2 separate regions of the Homo sapiens genome follow, and region 1 is linked to region 2. A link means that fine-mapping ties the variant in region 2 to the expression of a gene that starts in the linked region. Tissue or cell type: whole blood. Region 2 holds a variant in brackets; the other region holds the start of a gene. All regions are shown on one strand. Distances are from middle to middle. Region 1 holds the start of RELA-DT (RELA divergent transcript). Region 2 overlaps PCNX3 (pecanex 3).

Region 1 (5,360 bases), 38 kb before region 2:
CCTGGCCAACATGGTGAAACCCTGTCTCTACTAAAAGTACAAAATTAGTCAGATGCAGTGGTTCATGCCTGTAATCCCAACATTTTCAGAGGCTGAGGCAGGTGGATCACCTAAGGTCAGGAGTTTGAGACCAGCCTGGCCAACATGGTGAAACCCCGTCTCTACTAAAAATACAAAAAGTTAGCCAGGCATGGTGGCAGGCACCTGTAATCCCAGCTACTCAGGTGGCTGAGGCAGGAGAATCACTTGAACCTGGGAGGCAGAGGTTGCTGTGAGCCGAGATTGTGCCATTGCACACAACAAGAGCGAAACTCTGTCTCAAAAGAAAAAAAAAATACAAAATTAGCCGGGCATGGTGATGCATACCTGTAATCCTAGCTACTCAGGAGGCTAAGGCAGGAGAATCACTTGAACCTGGGAGGCAGAGGTTGCAGTGAGCCGAGATGGTGCTATTGCACTCCAGCCTGGGCCACAAGAGAGGAACTCCATCTCAAAAAAATAAAAATAAAAATGCCTATCTTCAGGATGAATAAACAAACTGTGGTATATTTACACAACAAAATAGTATACAGCAGTGAAAAAGTGAATTAACTGTGAAACATGAATCATAGTAACAGGTTGAGTGAAAAAAGCAAGTAACAAAGGACAACAAATCATATGATGCCCTCTTCATAAAAGTTCAAAACTGGCTGGGTGCGGTGGCTCACACCTGTAATCTCAGCACTTTGGGAGGCAGAGGCTGGCGAATCACCTGAGGTCAGGAGTTCGAGACCAGCCTGGCCAACATGGTGAAACCCCGTCTCTACTAAAAAAATACAAAAATTAGCTGGGCGTGGTGGTTGGCCCCTTTAATCCCAGCTACTCAGGAGGCTGAGGCAGGAGAATCGCTTGAACCTAGGAGGCAGAGGTTGCAGTAAGCAGAATGCCACTGCATTCCAGCCTGCGCGACAGAGTGAGACTTTGTCTCAAAAAAAAAAAAAAAAAAGTTCAAAACTAAGGAAAACCAAAAGATATATTGTGTAGGCATGCAGATATAACTTTTTTTTTCTTTAAAATACAGAATTCTGGGCCAGGTGTGGTGGCTCATGCCTGTAATCCCACTTTGGGAGGCTGAGGTGGGAGGATCGCTTGAGCCCAGGAGTTTGAGACCAGCCTGGGCAACACAGTGAGACCCATCTCTATTTACAATAAATTAATTAATTAATTAATTTAAAAAATACAGAATTCTGGCCCAGCGTGGTGGCTCACGCCTGTAATCCCAGCACTTTGTGAGGCCAAGCGGGGAGGAAAGTTGAGCTCAGGAGTTCAAGACTAGCCTGGACAACAAGGTTAAACCACTTCTTTACAAAAAATACAAAAACTTAGCCGGGCATGGTGGTGTGCTCCCGTAGTCCCAGCTATGCAAGAGGCTGAAGTGGGAGGATTGCTTGAGCCCAGGAGGTAGAGGCTGCAGTGAGCAGAGATTGTGCCACTGCACTCCAGCCTGGGCGACAGAGACAGACCGTGTCTCAAAAAATAAATAAATAAATAAATACAATACAATACAATACAATACAATACAATACAATACAATACAATACAGAATTCTGGATGGTGGTGGCCCCTTGAGTTTTGCAATGGGTACATGGGTGTTTATCGTATTAATTTAAAAGTTATAAATATACATGAATTTTAAGAAGAGGATCCATGCAAGGTTCAATGATAATTGTATATCATTAACCAAAGATTTTAATTAATCCATTCTGTCACCTGAAGTCGGCCTCCCCCGCCCCCTGCCAAAAGTAAACACTTTTCTAATCAGGGCCAGCCACTGGAGAAACTGAAATGAGTGGGCGGGGTGCTAACTCTATTTTCACTTTTCTCTTCCTGTTTCTTCAGAGCCTGGGAAACAAGTCAGAATTTCCAATCTTTTCCAATTCCCACATGATTTCCTAATTTAAGACGAATTCAGAGAAAATAAAAAAGTCTTTCTCCATCTGGAGAAGACTCCGCCCCCTGCAGTGGAGCATCCTCCTTTGGGGATGAGGCCTGGGGTGGGGGTGCGTCAGCCCCAGCCTCCACACGGACGCGCCTTGGGCTTGGTCTTGGGGGAGCTACCTGCACTGTGGGGTCACATGACAGAATTAGTGGTCAGCCCTAGCTGGAGGTCCAGGGCAAACACAGGCGGGGGCAGGGGGGTGGGGGGTCGTGAGCCTGCTGATTCAAGTGTCCCTGTGGGTCCCGCACCTTCTGAGACACAAGCGCCAGGCTTCAGAGACGAGGCTCCGGGATTTACCCCTGGGGGCCTCCTGCTCCCACAGCCGATGAGAGCCGGCAGTTTGGCTGTATCGTAAGCTGGCGCTTTAGCTGGAGAGGGACGAGCCCTCGGCCAGCTCGCCAGCGGGAGGGCCTCAGTCGTCCCATCCGGGCTGTAGGCTCCGCAAAGCTCTTGATGCACTGTCAGGCTGGGAGGTCCGGCCGCTCCCATTCCCCCACAGCCGCATCTAGATTGGGGTGGGTAGGACATTTTAACGTGCTTCTGAGACAGCCACCACCGAAAGGCACCTTTAGCGGTTAGGAAACCCGCGCGGAGTTCAACCACCCGGCCTCTGCGGAGCAGAAGGCCCGGTCGGGCTTTTCCCTGCGCGGGGCGGGCGGCCGCAGCCCAGTAGCCCTGGCTTTGCTCCAGACCCGGCCCAGAGTGACATCACCAAACTCCGCCGATCGGCGGGAGGGGGCCCTGAAATCCCCTAAAAACAAAGTGAGTAATCGGCGGACCCACCCTCCAGGCGGGGCCGGGACCCGGGAGCTAGCCGAGCCACCGGGCACGCCAGCCTCTTCGTCCTCGGCGAGGCGCGCACTTGGCCCCGACCCCCGGCAGCGGCTGTGCGTGCAGCCTCTTCGTCCTCCGCGCGGCGTGCACTTGCTCCCGGCCCCTGCGCCGGGCGGCGGCGGGGCAGCGCGCAGGCGCGGCCGGATTCCGGGCAGTGACGCGACGGCGGGCCGCGCGGCGCATTTCCGCCTCTGGCGAATGGCTCGTCTGTAGTGCACGCCGCGGGCCCAGCTGCGACCCCGGCCCCGCCCCCGGGACCCCGGCCATGGACGGTGAGGTCGCCCTCTGACCCCGCGGGGTGGCATCGCCGGGGCCGCCGCGGCTGTGGCGGGAGCCCCCGCGCCGCTTTCCGCCCCTTCCTGCGCCGACGGGCGCTGCGCAGGGAGCGGTCGGCCTGCCGGATGGTGGCGCGGGGCGGGGCAGGCGGGGAGGGGTCTGACTCAGTTTCCCCTCTGGGTGGAGGGGGTGGCCCTTGACTCAGCATCCTCCCTGGGTGGGGGAGCAGAGGGAACCTTGACTCAGTTTCCCTCCACACCGTCCATGGGGGCAGCTCTGGCTTCGTTTCCCTATTAGGGGAGAACGCATCTGATTCAGTTTCCTCTCTGGAGGGAGGTGGGGCGTGCCCTCCCTCAATTTTCCTTAAGAAAGTACAACAGGCCCTGATTCAGCTTCCCTCTGGAGAAGAAGGATTCCTTACCCCGTTTTCCCTCAAGAAGCAGGTGTTTCTGGTTCCTTTCCTCCACCCCTTAGTTTCACCGCAGGTTCTAGGGAGCAGGTCCTGACTCAGTTCCCCTGGGAGGGAGCCTGGCTTCTCCTCTCCGTGGAGAGCAGATTCCTCCTTGTGAGAATGGGCATTGGGTGTGTGCTGACCCTGATCTCCCTCCCCTTTCAGAACTGTTCCCCCTCATCTTCCCGGCAGGTAAGTGGCCCCCGCGGCGGTCGGGGAGGTGCTCCCTGGGGTAGGGCAGTGGGGGCAGCCGCCTAATGGGGCTGCGGTGTCCCCTGGCAGAGCCAGCCCAGGCCTCTGGCCCCTATGTGGAGATCATTGAGCAGCCCAAGCAGCGGGGCATGCGCTTCCGCTACAAGTGCGAGGGGCGCTCCGCGGGCAGCATCCCAGGCGAGAGGAGCACAGATACCACCAAGACCCACCCCACCATCAAGGTCAGCACTGCGCCAGGGTGTGCGGGGAAGGGACTGTGGAACCCCAGCCCTCTGTGTTTGGGAGTCAGGTTTGGATGTCTGGGCCTCTGTACTTTGGACAGATCAATGGCTACACAGGACCAGGGACAGTGCGCATCTCCCTGGTCACCAAGGACCCTCCTCACCGGCCTCACCCCCACGAGCTTGTAGGAAAGGACTGCCGGGATGGCTTCTATGAGGCTGAGCTCTGCCCGGACCGCTGCATCCACAGGTGAGGTCCCTGCAGGCTAGGAGGCCCAGCATGAGGGGACAGGAGGCGGGCTATGAAGTAGCCGCTACAGTGTTACTCCTTTCTGGACCCAGGGCAGAATTCCTCACTCCTTGCCCTGACTCAGCTCTGCAAGTAAACTGCCTTTGTCTTGAAATTATCTATTTGTACGTTTACTCTAGCAGATGAGTTCCAGGGGATACGGATGGGTCCCTAATCACTTCTGAATTCCTGACCCCTGTAGCTGGAAGGACAAGTCCCTCAGAGTCACGTCTCTTGTTTGAGGAAGAAAACCATTGAACCAGCACTCTCCCCTGGAGTTGACATTGCAGTTGACAGAGACAGGCTGTAAAAAAATATACAGGCCGGGCATAGTGGCTCATGCTTATAATCCTAGCACTTCGGGAGGCCAAGGCAGGAAGATCTCTTGAGCCTAGGAATTCAAGACTAGCCAAGGCAACATAGTGAGACCCCATGTCTACAAAAAATAAGAAATTAGCTGGGTATGGTGGCATGCGCCTATAGTCCCAGGGAGGCTGAGGTGGGAGGATCGCCTGAGCCCAGGAGGTCACTGCTGCGGCAAGCTATGATTGCACCACTGCACTTGGGTGGCAGGGCGATACCTTGTCTTTTTTTTTTTTTTTTTTTTTTTAAGAAAGAGTCTTGCTCTGTCCCCAGACTGGAGTGCAGTGGCGCGATCTCAGCTCACTGCAACCTCCACCTTCCGGGTTCATGCCATTCTCCTGCCTCAGCTTCCCGAATAGCTGGGACTACAGGTGCCTGCCACCACGCCTGGCTAATTTTTTGTATTTTTTAGTAGAGACAGGGTTTCACCGTGTTAGCCAGGATGGTCTCAATCTCCTGACCTTGTGATCTGCCTGTCTTGGCCTCCCAAAGTGCTGGGATTACAGGCTTGAGCCACCGCACCCGGCCCGACACTGTGTCTCTTAAAAATAAATAAATACACAGATAAATAAACAAGGTGCTGTCAGAGTAACAGTTTCAGTCCTGAAAATAAAACGAGGTCATAGGATAGAAGGATAACCTGGGGTGGGGGAGTTAGGGGAGCTGGTGTGTGATGACTTTAGATTGGGAGGTCAGGGAAGGCCTCCCTCAGCTAAGACTTGAATGGTGAGAAGG
Region 2 (5,360 bases):
CCTCTCTGTAGAGGGTGGAAGTAACCCCTTCCTTGAGAGGCTGCTGCAAAGGCCCACGGGGCTGATACAGAGCGGTGGCCACAGGCCCTCAGGAAATTCTCTTCCCACCCAGGCAGAAGTTGGCTCTGCTCCCATTGGACAGCCTGGGGTCTGGGCCACAGCCACCAACTCACCTTGCTGCAAAGCAGGGACATGAGGAAGTAGTCAAGCAGAAAGCCCTGGGAGAGGCGCGGGTAGTCAAAGTGGAAGAGCAGGACGGTGAAGGCCAACGTCAGGTACTGCTGTGGGGGGCAGCAGAAGGCTGAGCGCAGCAGCTTCAGCCCAGCCACGGTCATCAGCAGCGCCCGGCAGCTGTGGGCAAGGGGCAGGCATCGGGTGCTTGGTAGGGGACCGGGGCAGTGGGTATAGGTGTCCCATCCCTCGCCTACTCTGGCCGGAGAGCAACCCCTGGCCTCTGCTCTGCTGGGCTGGTCCCTGCTCTTTTGGGCCCGTGACTCTTAGTCTCTGCTCTTCCAAAGGGAGTGGTGGGAACACATTTGCCTTTGAAGAAGCAACCACTTCCTGGGATGGCGTGTCAGGAGCTGGGGTCCTGCTTTAGCTTGCTAAACAACCTTAGACATGATTCATTCCCTCTCTAGGCCTCAGTTTCCCCACGGATCAAAAGGGAAAGCGGATGATGGGATCGTTGAGGGTGGGGTGGTCCTCACTAGAAGCAGTACTTGTCCGGGTGGCTGACGACTGTGTGGGCGTCCACCGTGAGGGCGTTGAGCACCACGGCGGGGTAGATGAGGTACTTCTCTACGCACTGCAGGCCAGCATACAGCTTCTCAAACCACATCACCTGGGCGGCACCTGTGTGGAGAGGCCAGGACTCTGCACCTGGCTTCCACATGCCTGCCTTCCCTGAGGAAGTCCTTCCCTAGGAGGGCAGGCTGTGCGGTCCTGACTCCTCGGAGACCCTGGGGGGAGGGGCTGATCTGTGGCAGCTCAAATGGGAGCAGCGAGCCCCAGCAGGGCAAGGGCTCCACATGGCACTTAGCACATCGAGGCTTGCTTTATGGCAGGTGCTCTGCTCTGCTGTCTGTTAAAACAAGGCCAATGATGAAATCGCAAACACCTACGTACAGCAGGCTGGCTAGGGCCTGAGTGCACAGTGAGCCCGTGAGCTGGGCCCTTCTAAAGGGCAGACCCCTCGGTTCAGGCTGGTTGTAGCCACAGAGGGATGCTAGTCTGGGAAGCAAAATCTTCTGTCGTTTAAGAAAAACTCAAGAAACATGGATCTTCATATCTCAAATCGAGATGCTAAAATAGAGGCTCCAGGATTTTTTAAAAACCATTATGCAGCCCAGTGAAGATGTGCTCCAGGCAGCTCTGGTCCACTGGTGATCAGTGTTTAATTCTGGACAAGAGATCCCTTCAGGGCCCTGGGGTTCTAATTCTTCCGTCTTCTCACAGACAGGAAGGAGGGCAGGACCAGGGCAACACAGGCAAGGGAAGGGCACAGCAGGGCACGAGGAGAAGAGTCGGTGGAGAGCGCAGCCGGGCAACACGGACACAGAGGGCAGGGAGGGAGCAGAAAGGGTAGTGTGGGCAGCGAGTGCCCCCTGCTGGCACTCCTGAGCCGAGAGGACCACAGCTCCCACCAGCCAGGCTGCAGCCCGAGCCACTGCCCAGGCCTGGCCATCAGGGGTGGGCACTCACCGCGCACTTCATACTGGCTGTACTCCAGCGGCTTCAGCACGGGCTGTGACAGGCAGAACCAGGGCAGCTGTTTGCGGAGTTGTGGCAGCAGGTAATGTGTGAAGAAGCCCACGGCCCCAGCCAGTGCGTACAACACGAAACCCAGCACCGACTGCAGGAGGGAGAGGCCAGAGACTCAGCTGATGGGAGCAGGCCAAGGGACCACAGAGGGCCACCTGGCACAGGCCGGGGAGGGGCTGCCCACGGCACTCAGATTGAGCAGGCTCCCGCCAAGACAGCGAGAGGCAGCAGCGGCCCATGCCACACAAACCTTCAGGGCAATAAAGACGGTGCTGGCGCTGATGGCGAAGGTGAGCACGGCGATCACCACACACATCACCAGGTCGGAGTGCAAGACCTCACGCTGCAGGGCCAGGAGAGACATTCAGCTGCCCGGCCAGGAGAGACACTCAGCTGCCCAGCAGCCCAAGCTGGACATGCCCCTCCCAGGAACCCCAGGACCTGTCACCACCTCCCCACAGACCCCCACCCCCCGCCCCCTCACCACCGACTGGCGCATCTTGTCCGGCAAGGGGTCCGGGGGCTCGGCCCGGGCTGTCTCCAAGCTGCGCTCCTCCAGCTCAGGGAACAGCTTGCTCCGGATCAGAGACCTGGGGGTGAGGAAGAGTCAGGAGGAGGCCGCCCCTCCTTCCCCCCGGCCCCAGTCACGGGCACATGCACAGACCACAAACCCCTACTGGGCAGACACAAACACACGACCCGGAGCACACCCACCAGAGCACGGTGGGGTCGCTGCTCTGCCGGCTCAGGTGGTAGGACAGTGCCACCAGGAGGCCACAGAAGACTGAGAAGAGGACAGGGACGTGCTGCTCTGGCCACGGAGTCTGCGGAGAGAATCCATGCTGGTCAGGGGAGGTGAGGTAAGCATGGGGCCCGGGCTGCCCCCGTGTGAGAAGCCACTGCTGAGCCCAGTTCACAGCCCCGCCCCAACCACCCTTACGCACTGCAGCATGCCCCCACCTCGCAAGCCACCCCTACCTTGATGGCCCCAAGGCAGAAACCGTAGAGCAGGGCAGCAGCCAGCAGGCTGCGGGAGAGGCTGAAGACTGCCGTGAGCGGGCTGGTGGCAGCTGTGTGGAAGGGAGAAGTACAGCCCAGCTCTCACTTGCAGGTACCCCACCTCAACCCTAGCCGCGCTTCCCCTCAACTCCCAGAGGCTGGCCTCCCTGGAAAGGCACCCCCAGCCCATTGTTCTCTGCTGCCCCAAG[C/A]CCCAAGCGGCCTTTAGAGCTTCCAAGATTCTCAGATATAAACCACTTGCCTGGGGAGGGAAGGAGAGGGGAGAAGGCAGAAACCTTGAGTCTGCAGTACAGACGCAGGAGAAGGTTCCGCAAGGGTGGAGCCAAGGACCCAATCCGAGGGCCCTCCTGGGCCTCCACACGGGCCCCATCCCTGAGCCACCTGTGGGCATCATACCTGTGCCCCCGAAGCCGTGCATATCTATTTGCTCCAGCAGGTACATGAGGCAGGTGTTGACCTGGGGCAGGAGGCCCAGGAGGAAGACGAAGGGGAAGCACAGGGTGAACACTGGCAGGGAGGGGACACGAAGGCCTGGTCAGCCTGCTGGCTTTCCGCGGCCCACCCTCGGGGACTCACTCTCCTGGGCCACCTCATCCCTGCCCCAGCCTCACCAGTGGCCACGTCTCGGGCACAGAAGAAGAAGGAGGCAGAGAAGAGCGTGAGGCCGTAGAGGGAGACAGGTGGGAAGGGCTGAGCTGAGCCCAGGGCGTCCAGCAGCCAGATGAGCAGACAGCAGATGCAGAAGTAGACAGGACGGCTGTACGCGATCACCCAGTTGTGGCCCTGAGGGGTCAGCCCATGAGGAGCTGGGTCTCCCCGACTGGCCACACCTCTGACACATGCACACACTCAAGGGCCCCAGGCCTGGCCCTGGGTCCAAGCTGGAGAGCCTGGCCAGGTGGGGGTGATGGGGGTGGTGAGGGAGCCCCAGCCCTCCATACCCTACCCTCCTCCCCACCTGGTCTCAGCCCCTCCCGGGGCCTCCTGGCCAGAGGCGCTGCTCCATGGGTACTCACGTGCATGGGGGACGCCGCATCAGGCTGCACGCTCTGGAAGAGACAGGGCTACGTTGGCAACTAGAGCCGATGCCCACGGGATGGTCAGAGGCCCCAGACCTGTTCAGCTCCACCACTAGGCAGTTATGAGTGACCAGGTCAGGCCCCCGAACTGTCCTGAGCCTCAGTTTTCTTGCTTGTAAAAGAGCTGGCCAGCTCTAGGGAACCTTAGACAAATTATCTACCTTTCAGCTTATACTCCTTAAAACTGGAGTTGTGGGAAGGGCAATCTTGGGAAAAGTCGGGTGGGGAAGGAAACACAGAGAGCCCGGCCTGACCTTCAGCAAGGAGTACTGGCAGGAGGCGATGACCAGGCAGAACTGGAAGACCCAGATGTCAGTGAAGAAGCCCTTGAGCAGCAGCAGGTAGCCCAGGAAGGCCACAAGGCTGCTCAGGCCCACGCCGAAGATGTTCTCCAGCACTCCCCGCGTCCTGCAGGGACAGCCTAGTCAGGGCGTGCCCGTCTTGCCTCACCTTCCAGTGGGGCAGTGGGGAAGATGGATCTTGCCCTAAAGGCCCAGCTCTGGGACTGTGCCCATGCCAGACCCTTGTCCTCTGAAGATGTGAACACCTATAACTTTGCGACGACGCGGCCCGGCAGCACCTGCTCCAGCGACCATTGTATTGCTCTCTCCTTCCCAATCTTTGCCTGCTCTGGACATTGAGGGCTGAGAGCTCAGGGTGCCATTACTCCCGGGATTCATCCATCCCCAGCTGAGACTGAGTTAACTGCACGTGGCTACATCGTGCATGCTGCCTTGGGCGTGCCACGCTATGCACACAGGACCAGCACCCAGTCCCTGTGCCTAGAGAAACCCAGATGGACGGGAAGCCACATGGGCTCTAGGCCCAAGTTCTCTACACTGGGTAGAAGTCATCTGACTTCTCTATTGGATTTTCTGGGACTCTGTGTCCCCTCTGAGAAATGGGAAAAGTGAGATAACTGGTCTGTGAGCTTTTCTAGGTTACAGCACTCGATTTTCAAATCAACAGAAGCTAATAAAAAAAAAGTGAATAGGATGGCCGGGCGCGGTAGCTCACGCCTGTAATCCCAGCACTTTGGGAGGCCGAGGCGGGCAGATCACAAGGTCAGGAGATCAAGACCATCTTGGCTAACACTGTGAAACCCCATCTCTACTAAAAAAAAAAAAATACAAAAATTAGCCAGGTGTGGTGGCGGGCACCTGTAGTCCCAGCTACTCAGGAGGCTGAGGCAGGAGAATGGCGTGAACCTGGGAGGCGGAGCTTGCAGTGAGCCGAGATCATGCCACTGCACTCCAGCCTGGACGACAGAGAGAGACTCCGTCTCAAAAAAAGTTTTTTTCAGCAGGACTTTGGAATAAACAGATTTAATACAGCACCACCCACTTGGCCACCCCTTTACACCACAAATGAACCATAGAAACCACCACTGCAGACTCCAGCCAACGACAGGCCCTCAGCTTCCCCCGAGTCAGGCTCTCTGCTGCCATGACTGCCTCCACAGGTACAGAGTCTGGGGAGCCAAGGTCCAGGGGCTTTCCAAGA

What was found. PIP is the estimated chance that this variant, and not a neighbour inherited with it, causes the effect.
Region 1: it holds the start of RELA-DT, and the variant in region 2 is the best candidate, but not a certain one, in a credible set for the expression of RELA-DT in whole blood (INTERVAL, PIP 0.89).

The regions. Positions count from the first base shown.
Region 1 is chr11:65,660,550-65,665,909 of GRCh38, reverse strand. It overlaps RELA-DT (RELA divergent transcript), which reads right to left and starts at 2,904. Exons shown (of 4, transcript NR_183625.1): 1 at 2,762-2,904; 2 at 367-464. RELA (RELA proto-oncogene, NF-kB subunit) reads left to right here and starts at 2,994. Exons shown (of 11, transcript NM_021975.4): 1 at 2,994-3,084; 2 at 3,705-3,731; 3 at 3,822-3,973; 4 at 4,075-4,223. The coding sequence starts at 3,078. RefSeq lists an enhancer at 2,488-2,687 and silencers at 2,778-3,187, 3,248-3,307.
Region 2 is chr11:65,622,396-65,627,755 of GRCh38, reverse strand. It overlaps PCNX3 (pecanex 3), which reads right to left. Exons shown (of 35, transcript NM_032223.4): 12 at 4,112-4,265; 13 at 3,795-3,827; 14 at 3,390-3,561; 15 at 3,175-3,285; 16 at 2,740-2,831; 17 at 2,476-2,585; 18 at 2,246-2,351; 19 at 2,012-2,104; 20 at 1,702-1,852; 21 at 708-852; 22 at 174-351. Among named protein-coding and RNA genes, the nearest start is that of PCNX3, 9.3 kb to the right of the region's middle. The variant C/A (reference allele first, on the strand shown) is at 2,970.